Linked DNA regions of Homo sapiens. The protein of the gene in region 1 purifies or fractionates together with the protein of each later gene. This does not show direct contact. Each region holds a gene or a part of one and is shown in the gene's direction. Other genes may lie near its edges. The genes, in order: MTHFS and PLCL2.

What was found.
Region 2: the proteins of MTHFS (region 1) and PLCL2 purify together in Homo sapiens (affinity purification with mass spectrometry; 2 studies listed by BioGRID and IntAct, with this or other methods). This does not show direct contact.

The regions. Positions count from the first base shown.
Region 1 is NC_000015.10:79,893,007-79,901,831, reverse strand, and holds the start of MTHFS (5-formyltetrahydrofolate cyclo-ligase), read left to right. Parts: upstream 1-4,817; 5' UTR 4,818-4,843; coding exon 4,844-4,960; exon of another isoform or gene 4,961-5,041; intron 5,042-8,825. UniProt on the Homo sapiens protein: Contributes to tetrahydrofolate metabolism. Helps regulate carbon flow through the folate-dependent one-carbon metabolic network that supplies carbon for the biosynthesis of purines, thymidine and amino acids.
Region 2 is NC_000003.12:17,005,803-17,014,232, forward strand, and holds part of PLCL2 (inactive phospholipase C-like protein 2), read left to right. Parts: intron 1-3,871; coding exon 3,872-6,358; intron 6,359-8,430. UniProt on the Homo sapiens protein: May play an role in the regulation of Ins(1,4,5)P3 around the endoplasmic reticulum.

The DNA.
Region 1 (8,825 bases):
TGTTGAAACCAAGGTAGCTGAATTTAACAAACTATCACTGTTCCCAGAAATAATAAGGCCTGAACAATTCTTATTTACTACTGCATTACTGATAGGATATTGAATCCTTATTTGTATATTTATTTTTATATAATGGTCTTAAGATACAAATAGCATCATTAAAGAAAATATATTTGAAAATAACATTTTTGAAAGGAAGAAAAGTCACTCCCATCACCCTAACATATCCACATGCAGACATTGTATGCAATTATAATTAGGGTGTACATAAGAGTTTTTTGGTGTGACATACAAATATTTTCAACACTGTCTCACATACTCCATGTTAACATTAGGCATTAATTTCTAATGTCTACAGAATAGTTCATTAATTTGCCATATCATAATTTACTTAACCAATTCCCAATTGTTAGACAATTTGGTTTTGATTTTCCCCCTTTTATTTATTTATTTATTTTTTGAGACAGAGTCTCACTCTGTCATCCAGGCTGTAGTGCAGTGGCTTGATCTTGGCTCACTGCAACCTTCACCTCCCAGGTTCAAGCAATTCTCCTGCCTCAGCCTCCTCAGTAGCTGGGATTACAGGCATGTACCACCACACCCAGCTAATTTTTGAATTTTTAGTAGAGACAGAGTTTCACCACATTGGCCAGGCTGGTCTCGAACTCCTGACCTCAAGTGATCTCCCCACCTCAGCCTCCCAAAGTGCTGGGTTTATAGTTCTGAGCCACTTCGCCCAGCCTGGTTTTCCCCTTTTAGATATAATGGTTCAGTAGTGAAGCATAGGTATGCTTTTCTGGTGCCCCCTACCTTCCAATATTTTAGAAGACTGCCTCATGATAAATTTCTAACAGTGGAGTAACTGGTTCATAAGATGTGTGTATAATTACGATATTCTAGCATACTGGAAAACATATTTTCTTTTCGAAAGTATTATATCAATAGAACAATATCATAGCAACCTTATCAGTGTGGGTGGTACTATTAATAATTTTGAGGGTTTAATAGGCATCAAATAAAGCCACTTTAATAGGTCTAAAAAAAATAAGACTTTGTTAAAATGTACATTTCTTTAACTGCTATTAATGTTTTTCTCATATACTTGTGAATGATTTATATTTCTCTGTTTAATGGTCTCTCCTTTTTAAACTATTAAGGGCCTGAGAATTTTCTCTCACATTTGAATGAACACTTTCATGGTATATGTAAATATTTTCCTAGTTTATTGTTCTTTTTAGTTTTTCATAGTTAAAAAAATTTTTAATCTTCATCTGGCTGAATTTATCAATATTTTCTTTGTTCACTGTCCTTTCTTTAGACGTTGATGTATATGACATGTTAACTGATCAATGATAATAGACAATGATTATCGTTATAATAAAAGTCATTTCAGAGGGTCTCATCATACTTGCGAAATATGGTGTTTAGGAAGGGGCGTAATGAAGTGGATACCTCCCTAGAGTGTAATCTATGAGTATGTACTGGCAGAAGGGAAAGAGGAAGAAGAGGGGCAGTTTCCTTCCTCTGTCAAGGCATGACAGCATGTCTCAGAGCACGACGCACACTTACGTAGGCAGAAAATGGCTTTCTAAGTCTTTCAAATGAAATCCCCCTGGCTGGTGGTATTCATCTGCTTTGCCAGTGATGTTCATAAAATGATTCCAAGGCACCGCAGAGCTCTCGAATCTCTCCCAACTATCAAAGGGTTATGCTTGGTTTACGTTTCAATATTAGTTACACTTTGCTCTGAGCTACTTGCAGGCATTTGTAACCCCAGGTTCTGGAACCTGTAAGATGCAGCCACAAATGTTTGCTAGATGAACATTCGAAAAAATTATTTTAACAATTTTCGAATATTTTGGCACTTGTTTGGAAATGTATGGAGTGGAAAGAAGTAGGGTATTTGCATTCTAATCCAGGTCCAGGCACCAAGGGTTTGGCTAATCTTAGATAACTGATTTTTTTTGTGGGCCTCACTTTCCTCATTTGTTAAGAGAGAGCATTAGGCTAGATGATCTCAGAGGGACTTTTCAGTGAGGATTCTATGATTATAGATTGTAAATTAAATAAAATGTCCAGTTAATTGGGTTATCCTACATTTTTAAAACTATGTCCGATCACAAAGAGAGTAGATTATAAAAGAAACCATCAACCTTTTCATAGCTTCAAAGGTATTGGTTTAATTTGGATTTACTGTGAGTTCTCATGAGTTTCAATACAATGCAGTTTACAGTATAATAGAATTCATATTACAAATATAAGTGCATTGAAATCAATGTTGGACAATTAAACAAGAACAAGAACAAAAAGACTTTTTATCCTCTAGAGCTGTGCTTGCTGTTCACTATGGTAGTAAAATGTGGCTAGTCTGAATTAAGATACGCTGTAAGTACTAAATACTCATGAGATTTTGAAGGTTTGTTATGAAAAAAACTATCTCATTAGTGATTTGACATTGATTACATACAGAAATCATTATCACTAAATATATCTTAAAAATTAATTTTTCCTATTTTTGTACTTTTTAAAATGTGGCTACCAAAAATTAAAATTACAGATGTAGGCCACACTGTGTTTCTGTTACACAATGCTCCTTTAGAGGGATAGAAGATTATTTGCATTATTTAAATGAAAATATTTTTGCTTTTTATTCCAGCATACTTAATCTCCAATGATTTTTAAAATGTTAAATTTATTCTCTCATAGGAAAATGGCTTTGTAAAGAAGCTTGAGCCTAAATCTGGCTGGATGACTTTTCTAGAAGTTACAGGAAAGATCTGTGAAATGCTCTTCTGTCCTGAAGCAATACTGTTGACCAGAAAGGACACTCCATATTGTGAAACCGGCCTAATTTTTCTGACTCTTACGAAAACGATTGCCAACACATACTTCTACTTTTAAATAAACAACTTTGATGATGTAACTTGACCTTCCAGAGTTACAGAAATTTTGTCCCTATTTAATGAATAAATTGTATGTATTTTTCTCTATATGCCATTTTTGTCTTCAGTTTTGGAGTCTGGCTGGAAATTCAGCCAAAGGGTAAAAGCTCAACACAGGATCCAGGCAATTAATTATGGGATGATGACCAGGAAGGCGGTGTCTTTTCTGCCCCAGGCAGACTTTTAAGGTGTGCCATTACCCCAAAAGTCCTTTTCTGTGTCACTAGGCTAGACTGCAGACTAGACTGAGAAGCGGACTCAGGCTAGAAGCAGACTCAGGTCGGCTTCCCTCTTCCCTCCTTCCTTCCCATGCTTTCTGCAGTTTCCAGTGCCCCTGGCTGCTTAAGAGTTTCCATTGATGCCTCCTCCCCAGCCTTCTCTCTCTGGCTTGCCATTTGGGGTTGATGGATATGGCAACCTGATATGCAGGATACTCTGGGATATTCTGAACAAAGAAAATTGGTAAATGATTCAACGTGGAGCTAGTGTTAATTTTAATTTTTATTTTTTGGTAAAAATGAACAGATTAGAAAAGTACGTAGTTTGTTAGACCTCGTGTTCTAACTTTTAGGTCAGCAAATCTAATTGCACTATGTATACGCTGTACCTGCCTGGCCTTCCCTTTTTCTTACAACACAGTCCCCCTGGGACTTGCATTAGCTTTCCCTGGAAGCTGTTGATAGATTCCATAAAGAAGCCAGAACTCCCCTCTCAAGCCATGTGCATTCTCACCGGGCACTTAATTAATGCTTTACCTAGGAGGTGTGATTCTTAACGGTGGGGATTAAGACACTGGGGCGGTCAGTAGGGACGTATTTTTGGCAGAGACAGCTCTGGTTTTCTTAGGAAGTCACATCTGAGAGGCAACCGTCTATGCCATCTGAGGCGCCTGTCTACTGGGAGCAGTTTAAGACTTAACAGTTTCTTTTACCTCTTCCTGCAAGTGCCTCACCCACCCCCCAACTGCTTTTAGTTTTAATTCATTTTTGTGTTTTAATCAGAGCTGAGTGGTGGGAATGAACAGTCACTGATGGTTATAACAGGAAGTACCTATGTGGGCACTATTACCTGGAATACATTCACACTAGAAACCCGCAAAATTTGGCTTTTACACTACAGTTATTGCTTTAGCAGTGTTCCCGATTATGTATCATCTATACATTCATCACATAAGGACATTTCCATCAACCACTGTGGTCCCTTAAGATTATAATGGAGCTGAAAAATTCCTAATACCTACTGATGTGGTAGCCAACCAACACATTACCTTTTCTGTGTTTAGATACACAAGTATCACGGTGCTTACAATTGCCTACAGTATTCGGTACAAAATACGCTGTACAGGTGTGTAGCATAGGTGTGTAGTAACTTTGTGTAACTACACTCTGATGTTTGCACAAGAAGGAAATCGGGGCATCTGTCAGACCTATCCCTGTAGTTAAGCGACTCGTGACGATTTCGCTACATGTCCTGCCTTGCCCTTCTTTTCTGGCCCCTGAAGTCCCACTACTGAACAGTACAAGAGATGCCAGGCACCGTGGGTACTGCCGGCCATCTTTACCATCCCCGCCAGTGGCGCTGCCGCCTCCGCGGTCCCGGTGAGGGCCCAGGCTCAGGGAGGTCAGGCGGCAGGGCAGCGACGGCGCCTCGCCACCGCTCCCCTAACCGGGGAGGGCGAGCCGGACCACGGGGACCGCACGAGGGCTGGGTCCCAAGGGCCAGAGGCGAGGTAAGCGCGCGGCGCGCCGCGGGCCCGCGTCCCGGAAGCGGGGTGGGGGCGCTTCCCCGAGCCCCGACCCGCCCCTAGGCCGCGGATCCACCTGGGAGCGGCCAGGGGCGGAGACCGAACCCGAGGGCGCCCAGGGCGCCGAGGGCGGGACTGGACTCGGCTTGGGCGTGAGATGGCGGCGGCAGCGGTGAGCAGCGCCAAGCGGAGCCTGCGGGGAGAGCTGAAGCAGCGTCTGCGGGCGATGAGTGCCGAGGAGCGGCTACGCCAGTCCCGCGTACTGAGCCAGAAGGTGCGAGGCCGCCCGTAGCGGAAGCCGCGGCGGACAGACCCTCCGAAGGCCTGGCGGCCAGCGATTGCTGATCTGTGCATGGTCCGTGCTGGCGCTGGGCTAGGCGCCCCCCCACCCCCCGGCGCGCGCACGTTTCCCCTCCCGGCGCGCGCACGCCCCCTAGTCGTGGTCTGGACGCTCTTGGCACTATGGCGGGGAGAGGGCCCGGTAGTGAAAGTTGTGGGGCTAAAGAGCGAGAGGACGGCAGGGGTTGACAGATTTATCTCTGGGAGGGGAGTTTGTTTGCATGGGTGGCTCTTTTGGTGCTCGAAAACCCTCCGTGGGGATGACGGTGCTGTGGTGAGAGCACGGTGAGAACAGAAAGTTGTGGTAGAGGAGATGGGTGAACACCTGAGTGCCCAGGTTCCCTCAGTGAGGCCTAAAGTTAATGAGCTACGAGTAAGACTCCGGTTATATTAGTAAAATGGCCAGAGAAAGATGCAGGTGCTTTAGACGAGGGAACACCAAAAAAGGTGTGGAGATGCCAAAGGGCAGAACTCAGAGGTTGACTGGACTTCACTAAGCATATGGAGGGCTAAGGCTGTGTCTCAGTAGCTCCAGGGCCTAGGCTTTTCCTGTCTCAGAGTTGGTCAACATTAAATGCTTTTTCTTGAGTGAACGAAAGGAAGACTTGGCTATCATATCCAGGCTTCCCAAGAACGTAGGAAACAGAAGAGAGAAATGAGAGGAATAAGTGAGGGTCCGTGTTTGTTGGTTAGCAGACCTCTGTTTCATTACTTTCACCAACTGCACTGCTATGTATTTTTAGTCTATGTAATGTCAGTTTTCTTATCAATAAAATGGCAGTCATATCCTGTTGTGAAGGCATGTTCTAAAGAGTTTTTGGGGACTCATTTTTGTTAGACACCAGAGGAAGAAAAATTTAATGTCCCCTGAATAAGTACGTATTTGTAATTCTGTTGTAAGTCAAACTGATGATCTGTCTTCCCAGCATCATGCTTCAGAGACACCAGATATTTGGAAACTTGATGTTCCTTGGAATTAGTTATACCATCAGGCTTTCTTAATTACCCTTCACTATTCTATTATCCGTTATTTACTCAAATTCAAGGTGCCTATGGGTTAAAGCAGTAAAGCATATATGCTCATTTCACCCCTCTCTTCATCTATGTAGGTGTGTATGAGGGAATCTATACAGATGTTAATTCGTTCGTTCAAACAGAATTATTTTAGCTATTATGAGGAAGCATTGCTGGGTGTTTTAGTAGATGTAAAGGATATAGACTCTTGTCCTTACTATCTAGTTGTTTAAAATTTAGCTAATTCATTCACATATGTTGAACACCTATGTAGTGCACACTTGGCTATATACTGGGTTGTGGAGATGAAAAAGATATGATTGTTGCTCTAAAGGAGCAGAGAGCCTAGAAGAGGAAACAGACATGAATAAAGAATTGCATTGAAGCCAGATATATGATAAAGGTAAACACCAATGTTGTGGAAACATAGCCTTGGGGAGGGGAAATTGGAAAGCTTTCTATTGGAAAATGTTTGAGATGAATTTCGGAGAACAAGATGAATTCTTTCAGGTGAAGGGAAAGATGGGATAGGGGAGTGTGAGTAGGGATATTTAGGCAAGAGATGACAGGATACAGTTTAGCATGGGCTTTGGAACTGCACAGATCTGGGCTGAATCTGGCGCCATTGTTTTTTAACTGTATATCCTTGGACAGGTCTCATAATCTCTCAGAACCTTTGGTTCCTTGTCTATAAAATGGATAATATCACTCTTGTAGGTCGATTGTGAGAGTTAAAGAAGTGTGTAAAGGGATGTATTCAGAGCTTTACCTATTGTTTGTTATGTCCTTTAGGAAGAGTATAATGGCAGCATTTGGATAATGGGTTGAGGAAGGAAGAAAGAAAAAAAATATGGAGACCAGTAAGGGGCTGTTGTGCCAATTCAAGTGAAAGATGAAAAATATGCAAACCAGAGCATGGGCAGTGAAGATGAGGGGAAAGGAGGCAAATGGGAGACTGTTAAGTGAGAAACAGCAGGACTTGGCAACTGATTGGAAGAGGTTAGAGAATACTGGAAGGGGAGGAGAGTCACCAGTGATTCCAAAATTTAGAGCTTGGTATAATGGTGTTTAGCCTTAGGCATAAAGAAGGTAGGAATTGGAACAAATTTTGGAGGGGCATGGGGAAAATAAAGATGAATTCAGTTTCTAATCTTCTACGTTGTCTTTCTCCGTAGAAGATTAGAATTCATAAACTATAGATGGAAATAGTTTACATAGATACAGAGTCACTGACAGCAATAGAATGACGACTGAGAGCTGGCATTAAAGGAGGAGAGAGAAAAATTAAAAAGCAGACCCATGACCCTCAGTAATAAATACATTTTACTCTGTACAAACAAATATACACATACAAGGAACATTTTACAGCTCTTAAGCACATACAATGAAATTTAATATTTTCTTTTTTTTTCAAGACAGAGTCTTGCTCTGTCGCCCAGGCTGGAGTGCGGTGGCATGATCTCGGCTCACTGCAACCTCTGCCTCCCACGTTCAAGCGATTCTCCTGCCTCAGCCTCCCAAGTAGCTGGGATTACAGGCACGTGCCGCCATGCTCAGCTAATTTTTCTATTTTTAGTAGAGACGGGGTTTCACCATGTTGGCCAGGGTGGTCTCGAACTCGACCTCGTGATCTTCCCGCCTCTGCCTCCCAAAGTGCTGGGATTACAGGCGTGAGCCACTGTGCCTGGCTCGAACTTTAATATTTTCTATTCTATTTCATTTAAAAATTGTAGCCCACTATTGATTTCATGACTAACCAATGGATCATCACTGGAAACATCAGTGTACTGTGTAGTGTTTTGCCATAGTGAATGCTCAATAAAGGTGTTAAATGATGTCTTTCATTTAGAAAAGCGTATTTATTCTTATTGGCACTGTACCTTTTTATAACTTAGAAATTTATCAGAGAAGTAATTTAAATGGTAAAGAAATTCAGGTTTATGTCATATCTTGATTCCCTAAGATGAGGAAATTAGTGCCCCTTTACTCACTGTGTTTTCTACTCCCTCTGTCAGTTTCTGACATTTATATTGTTATATTTATGTTGTCAAGTTTTGTAATTTTTCTTTTTCTTTTTCCTTTTTTTTTTTTTTTTGAGAGGGAGTCTCGCTCTGTTGCCCAGGCTGTTATGCAGTGGCGTGATCTCGGCTTACTGCAAGCTCTGCTTCCCGGGTTCATGCCATTCTCCTGTCTCAGCTTCACAAGTAGCTGGGACTACAGGCGCCCGCCACCACGCCCGACTAATTTTTTGTATTTTTAGTAGAGATGGGGTTTCACCGTGTTAGCCAGGATGGTCTCGATCTCCTGACCTCGTGATCCGCCTGCCTCGGCCTCCCAAAGTACTGGGATTACAGGCGTGAGCCACCGCGCCTAGCCAGTTTTTCATTTTTTGAGACAAAGTATCGCTTTGTTGCCCAGGCTGGAGTGCAGTGGCGCAATCTTGGCTCACTGCAACCTTCGCCTCCCGGGTTCAAGGAGTTCTGTGCCTCAGCCTCCCAAGTAGCTGGGATTACAGGCGCCTGCCGCCACGCCTGACTAATTTTTGTATTTTTTGTAGAGACAGGGTTTCATCATCTTGGCCCGGCTGATGTTGAACTCCTGACCTCATGATCCACCTGCCTCGGCCTGCCAAAGTGCTGGGATTACAGGCATGAGCCACCACGCCTGGCCAGGTTTTGTAATATTTAAACTTTGTTCTGTAACTATAATGAGTCTACTGAGCAGTATTTGTGACCGATTTCCAAACTTGAGATTTCAGTAAATTGTATTTACAGTAAACAGTATTT
Region 2 (8,430 bases), on another chromosome or scaffold:
TTGCAGTCCGGACATTGTTTGTGTATTCTTTCTCTTGAGGTTACTAAGTTCTAATAGAGTAGCAGAATTGCACCAAGTTTCCCTTCTGTTGTATTCACCACTCAGAAGCTTTGGGTGATGAGTACTCCTTCACAGTATAACAGCCAATTCTGAGAAATAGTTTATACTATTTTTTAAAAGTATTTTGAGGCACAAGTGTCTCAGCAGAAACCTGCATTTTTTCCTCTGGTTTTAGATGGTTAATGCATGTGAGTATTATGCATTTAATGTTCTTCCAGTTAAAAAGGTATATGTATAGCACATGTAGGTTGAATAATCTTCATTATTTAGTTTAAACTAACTTGCATTACAAGGCAGCATAAACAATAGATCCCAGCTCTCTGCTTCTGACCAGCTACTTAGCTTAGGCAAGTATTTGATCACTGCCAGGCTGAACAATGAAAGACAAGTTGAAATGAGTAAGAGTGGGATAAGGATTCCAGGAATTAGGCAATTTGGGGCTCAGTCTCCTGCCATTGAACACCAGTTCTCCTTCCCTCCCACACAAGTGCTTCTGTCCTCCCCTTCCTTTTCTGCTGACTGTGGAAGACCATTTCGCCAGCTTCTCCTGTATTCACATCCACTTGTTGCTCCCAGCCAGAGATTCTGGTCCACCCATTAAGGAGTGCAAGCTCACATCTGTTCTCTTCCTTATTGGTCTCTAAACAAGCATACTCCTCTATTGGTGTTTTCTGATCACTTTATCTGCTAGTGAGGAAGGAGAAGCAGATTCAGGCCTTGGTGTGCTATGGAGACAGTTCTAGGCAACAGCAGATGGAGGGAGAGGAAGAGACAGGAAGTCTCTGCTAAGGGGTGTCCTTGATGTCATTATATCTGCCCGTGGTTGGGTGGTCATCATGTTCATGTGTCTGCAATTGATAACCAGAAGTCTCCATTCAAAGCCTGGGCTGGTTTGTGAAAAGCATGGCAATGTTCTTAAAGCCACAGTGTGGTGTTTAAGCTGCTGCCTGTTCCACATACATGGGTATGTGAGCATGTGTGTATGTTATTAACTTACTTTGCTATTAGGCCTTTTCCCTCTTAATAAAAAAGAAACCTGTTTATCTGAAATGTATCATTTATAACAAATTAGAAAGTGTAACAGAATATTAATCAGCCTGTAAAAATGAAAGAATAAAAGATTACAATGTTGGGAAAATACTATATATTTCTTAATGGATCAGTGGATAAACCACATCCATATATTTTTGTAATTGTTCTACTAGTGTCATCTTTGAGACACGATATATAAAGATTATAAAATTCCCTAACTGAGTCAGTATGTTGTCTTTATCAAAGGTAAATGCGTCTTTTAAAAACTAAAGACATCGGTCAGGCGTGGTGGCTCACACCTGTAATCCTAGCACTTTGGGAGGCTGACGCAGACGGATCACGAGGTCAGGAGATCGAGACCATCCTGGCTAACATGGTGAAACCCCGTCTCTACTGGGAAAAAAAAACTAAAGACGTCATTCTGAAAAATAGAAAATTATACATTTGTTTCATGTCCTTATGCATGGCTGATTACAAAACTAATTTCATGCTAACTCACTCAAATTGATGTAATACAATCTATGCTTTAGGGATTTGAAATGGCTTTAATATAATGTATCTTACAGATACAATTACCACAGTTTTTATGTATTTTGCACTTTATTGTTCTGAGGATATAATTGTAAAGAAATATTCTACCTTGTGGCTTTTATGTTTTGTCTTGGCACCCAGATCACAAAAGCTTCTATGGTTCATTTTGAAACTTTGAGGAAAATGATACCCATATGATTTAAAGTTTAAGTTTAATTACCTTCTGCAAATTGCTTTTGGAAGTATAGGTAGTTAGAAAGTAAAAGTGGTTTTAAATTTCAGAGATAGAGTATAGCATAATAGCTTTTTAAAATACAGATATTTTCTATCCAGAGCAGGAAAATTAGAATTGCCTTTGGATAATATTCAACAATGTTCTTTTCTTTGTCATGAAAGTGATATAATTCCAACTCCCATCCCTATTTCTTATTTATAAATACAATGAATACTGAAAATTTGTCATAGATTTTATACACATACTGAAAGGCAGTATCATCTTTTAGGTTTAAAATTGTGAAAGATCTTTTGAGGTAATTTGAGCACTCTTTTCAAATAATAAAGGTCTCCATACAAGGAAGGACTTAAATACACACACAGATGTGGATGTCAGCCCCTTAAGATGAGAACATGTTACCTTAAGCAGGAAAGTTGAACAGTGCCTTACTGGTGATGCTAACTTCTTTAGAAATAAGTGCTGCCTGAAGTTTTAAACTTAGTCCTTTTAATAATCTATTAATATTAAGGTACAAGGTGACATTGTTCTGAGCATTGGGGCATAGTAATAGGTTTTAATAAATCCAACTCTACGATTTTAGGAGCTCCAACAGCTATAATCTAGCCCTTCATCTCAGACTTACATGTCTATCTGATGTATACTGATGACTGATCTAGTATGAGACTTTGGAGAGAGGAATTTCTGCTGGAATTCCCATTTAACAGTTACTTAATTGGTTTCTACTTAGCTGTTTCTCATCATTTGGTGCAAATAGTTTCCAGAAATAGTCTAGACGTCTTAGCCCAAGTAGTCAGGAAATGGTTTTTAAACTTTAGTGTACATCCTCCGTCACATGGAGTGCTACCTTGATGTAAATTCCTGGGCACCAGCCCCAGGGAGCTGGTTCCATGGGCCTAGCAATCTGCATTGTAACCAGGTAACCCAGATGATTCTGAGGCAGGTGGTCTGGTGACAAGCCTTTGAGAAGTATTGGTGTAGGAGGCGTACGTAGAAACAGGGCCTGTTTCATGGTGTATGACCTGTACAGTTGCACAGGCTTCACACTGACTCAGAAGAGCCCTGGGCTTCACTTAGCTCCTCTGTCACCTTGAAATTCTTAATAATTTTTAATCAGGGAATCCTGCATTTTCACTTTTCTCTGGGCTCTGAAAATTGTTTCTTTCTTTCTATTTTTTGAGACAGGATCTTGTTCTGTTGTCCACATTGGAGTGCTGTGGCAAGATCATAGCTCATTGCAGCCTCAATCTCCTGGGCTCAAGCAATCTTCCCATCTCAGCCCCCTGAATAGCTAGGACTACAGGCATGAGCCACCATATCTGGCTAATTAATTTTTTTTTTTTTTGAGACGGATTCTCACTCTGTTGCCCAGGCTGGAGTGCAGTGACACAATCTCAGCTCACTGCAACCTTTGCCTCACGGATTCAAACGATTCTCCTGCCTCAGCCTCCCGAGTAGGTGGGATTACAGGCACCCGCCACCATGCCCGGCTAATTTTTGTATTTTTAGTAGAGACAGGGTTTCAGCACGTTGGCCAGGCTGGTCTCAAACTTCTGACCTTGGGTGATCTGCCCCTTCTTGGCCTCCCAAAGTGCTGGGATTACAGGCATGAGCCACCATGCCCGGCCAAAAAAAATTTTTTTTTGTAGAGATGGGATCTCACTGTATTACCCAGGTTGGTCTCAAACTCCTCACCTCAAGCAATCCTCCTGCCTTAGCCTCCCAAAGTGCTGAGTTTATAGGTGTGAACCTCCGTCCCTGGCCTGAAATTGTTCTTCTTGATAAATATGAATTGCAATTATTCAATAATGATTTCATACCTGTTGGTATTAGGCTGTCAACTGCAAGGCCAATTCTGAGCTTTAGAGATGAATGAGTATCATTCATCACAGGAATCTAGAATAGGAAATCTTAATAGTATGATTTTTTTCTAGGAAATTAAATTTCTATTCATAATCTTGAACATAGAAACCTATATTTATGTTATTCTAATATACGGTCTTTTTTTCCTCTCAGGATGGTACAAAACAGAAGAGGGAACGGAAAAAGACAGTCTCATTCAGCAGCATGCCAACAGAGAAGAAGATCAGCAGTGCAAGTGATTGTATTAATTCAATGGTTGAGGGTTCAGAACTCAAAAAGGTTCGCTCCAACTCTAGAATTTATCATAGGTACTTTTTACTGGATGCTGACATGCAGAGCCTAAGGTGGGAGCCATCTAAGAAGGATTCTGAGAAAGCCAAGATTGACATTAAATCCATCAAGGAAGTGAGAACAGGAAAAAACACAGACATATTCCGCAGCAATGGCATTTCTGACCAGATATCTGAAGATTGTGCGTTTTCCGTCATATATGGAGAGAATTATGAGTCACTGGATTTGGTTGCCAACTCCGCAGATGTTGCAAACATCTGGGTTACAGGACTGCGGTACCTAATTTCTTATGGAAAACATACACTTGATATGTTAGAAAGTAGCCAAGATAACATGAGGACTTCTTGGGTTTCACAAATGTTTAGTGAAATTGATGTAGATAACCTTGGACATATAACTCTGTGTAATGCTGTGCAATGTATCAGAAACCTCAATCCTGGTTTAAAAACGAGCAAAATTGAGCTTAAGTTCAAAGAATTGCATAAATCAAAGGACAAAGCTGGTACCGAGGTCACAAAGGAAGAATTTATTGAGGTTTTTCATGAGCTTTGTACTAGACCTGAAATTTATTTCCTTTTAGTTCAGTTTTCAAGCAATAAAGAATTCCTTGATACCAAGGACCTTATGATGTTTCTTGAGGCAGAACAGGGTGTGGCACATATAAATGAGGAAATAAGCCTTGAAATTATTCACAAATATGAACCATCCAAAGAGGGTCAGGAAAAGGGCTGGCTCTCCATAGACGGGTTCACTAATTACCTTATGTCACCTGACTGTTATATATTCGATCCAGAACATAAGAAGGTCTGTCAGGATATGAAGCAACCTCTGTCTCATTACTTTATAAACTCATCTCATAATACATACTTAATAGAGGATCAGTTCCGAGGTCCCTCCGACATCACAGGATATATTCGAGCTCTTAAAATGGGTTGCCGGAGTGTTGAATTAGATGTATGGGATGGGCCGGACAATGAACCTGTAATTTACACAGGCCACACCATGACCTCTCAGATAGTTTTCCGCAGTGTCATTGATATTATTAACAAGTATGCATTCTTTGCTTCAGAGTATCCTCTTATCTTGTGTTTAGAAAACCACTGTTCCATTAAACAACAGAAGGTAATGGTTCAGCACATGAAGAAACTTTTAGGAGACAAGCTCTATACAACATCACCCAATGTTGAGGAATCTTATCTACCATCCCCAGATGTCCTGAAAGGGAAAATACTAATTAAAGCAAAGAAGCTGTCCTCAAATTGCTCTGGGGTAGAAGGAGATGTTACTGACGAAGATGAAGGAGCAGAAATGTCTCAGAGGATGGGAAAAGAGAACATGGAGCAACCCAATAATGTGCCTGTGAAGCGATTTCAGCTTTGTAAAGAACTGTCTGAACTGGTCAGCATCTGCAAATCAGTTCAGTTCAAAGAATTTCAGGTGTCGTTTCAGGTTCAGAAGTACTGGGAAGTCTGTTCCTTTAATGAAGTGCTTGCCAGCAAGTACGCCAATGAAAATCCAGGGGACTTTGTAAATTACAACAAACGTTTTCTTGCTAGGGTTTTTCCCAGTCCAATGAGAATTGATTCCAGTAACATGAATCCTCAAGATTTTTGGAAATGTGGTTGCCAAATTGTAGCCATGAACTTTCAGACACCAGGACTGATGATGGACCTGAATATTGGCTGGTTTAGGCAGAACGGAAACTGTGGCTATGTCCTCCGGCCAGCCATCATGAGGGAGGAGGTCTCCTTCTTCAGCGCCAATACAAAAGACTCTGTCCCAGGGGTCTCACCTCAACTTCTTCACATTAAAATCATCAGTGGGCAGAACTTTCCCAAGCCCAAAGGATCAGGTGCCAAAGGTGATGTGGTAGATCCTTATGTCTATGTTGAAATCCATGGAATCCCTGCTGATTGTGCAGAACAAAGGACAAAAACAGTGCACCAGAATGGAGACGCTCCCATTTTTGATGAAAGCTTTGAATTTCAAATCAACCTGCCTGAACTGGCCATGGTGCGCTTTGTAGTGCTGGATGATGACTACATTGGGGATGAATTCATCGGCCAGTACACAATTCCCTTTGAATGTTTACAGACGGGCTACCGCCATGTCCCCCTGCAGTCCTTAACTGGAGAGGTCCTTGCACATGCTTCTTTATTTGTCCACGTGGCTATTACTAACCGAAGAGGAGGAGGAAAGCCTCATAAAAGGGGCCTTTCTGTGAGAAAAGGGAAGAAATCCAGGGAATATGCATCTTTGAGAACACTGTGGATTAAAACCGTGGATGAGGTATTCAAGAATGCCCAGCCCCCTATACGGGATGCCACAGATCTGAGAGAAAACATGCAGGTGCGTGCTTGTGTTTAATCATTTACTCAATGGTTTTCCTACTTTGTACATGTCCATAGTTTATAAATATATTGGTTTTTTAATAATAGTATATTTAAGTAGTTTTTAAATTCTGATTAGTTCTTAGAATGTTTGCCACTAGTCTGTTTTTTATCATTTAACTTCCTAAAGGTACAGTTGATGTTGAAAATATTGATTACATATTGGGATAAGTGAGTCTCGTTGCTGTGTTACACACCTTCATCCCAGTCCCTGTTAATGACTGCTGAACAGTTCCTTGTTTTTTTCTAATAGTATACATGGGAATCTCTGGGATTTCTGAATATTCCTTACCTGGAACACAAATTGATGATCTATCAAAATAAAAAGGATATAGGTCAAAGTAAAATGGATGTGATCCAGTCCTTTCTTACGAAGCTGTAATGCTGAGGAGATGGGAAACCTTTAAATGAGCCATAAATATATGTGTATGCATAGTGAGCCTCCTTTTGATTTGAGAGGATAGCTAATTCTGTAAGTAAAAGAGATGTCTGTATTTATTAGAAGTTTAAGATAATAATTACCTCTGAAATATATAATGGCTAAAAGCAGTCAGTTAGGAATTACATATTTAATTAAGGATCGCCCACACATCTAGCCATACGCTAGGACCCCTGAGTGACACAGAGCTAGACAGCAAGGGCCTGCCTCATGCAGACAGCAGCCCTAACCTGTCATAGTGTGTGAGAAGTGGTGTGTGTGTGATAAGTGCTCCATGTCTGTTTATTTTGTATTTTAAAAATTATATTTTAAAATGACCAATGAGAATGATGCCAACAAATAAAATCTGACTGAGAAAATTCAACGTTTTTTCCCTATCAACTAATTCTATGTGTACTTCGTGAATAAAAGACCTTCCCACAATAAGGAAATTTGTTTTCTTTCTCTTAAAGTAAAAGCATAACAGACATATGAAGGGCTTTTCCCTGTTTTTGAGGGTGAAAGTGGTTTGGTAAACCCTCAGCTCTGAGCAAGCGCATTGTCCACTGCCCAGTGGCTGCTGTGGTGTGTGTGACACAGAATTCCTTTGAGGATTTGTCAGAGCTCAAGCATTGTCTTTTCCAAAGCCTCATCTGCACTGAACCTGACAAAGCAGTCGGTAGTGATACTGAATGAGCACCTGCCATGCACAAGCAATCTAGGCCATGAAGATGCAGTGGTGAACAAACAGATTGACTGCCTGCCTTTAAGGGGCTTGCATGCTAGTTGGGGGCAGGCAGTGGGAAGGGGAAACAGACAGGAGGCAGGCAGATAAACAAATAGAACAACTGCAGGTATGAGTAAGTGGTGTAATAAGAGTGACTGGGGAACTGCACTTTAAATATCACAGTCATGATTGATTTCTGTAACTGTCAATATCAAAGTGATTTGAGCCAATGATCTATAGTTTGATGTCCATATTTAAAGCAATATTAATAAAAATGAAATGTTTAAATTTAAAACTAAAGTGTTCATTCCCAAGAACCTGCATTATTTGAGAGCAGAAGGCACAGGCCTGCAGGGCCTAGGTCCACCCCCTCTGCCCGCATGCCCGGCCTAGACCAGGACCCAAGTGTGCCTGAAATAGCCCACCTGACTCTTATTATGATTATAATTGGCCTGTTATTACTCACGGTGACTCAAAGCATGGGCCTTAACATCAGCAGCTTTCAGGTAAAATCTTGACTCCTTCACTTACTAGCTGTGTGACGCTAGACAAACAGAGAAGGATTATAGCTAAGGCTCAGTCTTCTCATCCATAACATGGCTTGCTGTGTGGATTAAATGGAAGTAATGTGTAATAAATATGCCTAGTATGGCTTAGCACTTAGTAAGTGTTCATAGAAGGCCAGCTCATGGCATTTTATAGTGTTGAAGGTTTTTCTTTAATGGGTATTTAAATGGCATATCTCTGGTGATTAGAAAAAAGAGAGAGAGAGGCATTGGGATCAGCAGTGACACTAATAGGGGAAGGTCACAGGTAACCAAGGTCCCTGCTGGGCAGACTCAACAGAGAACAGTAGCATCCTCAAAGGTTCTTTAGATTTTGAGCC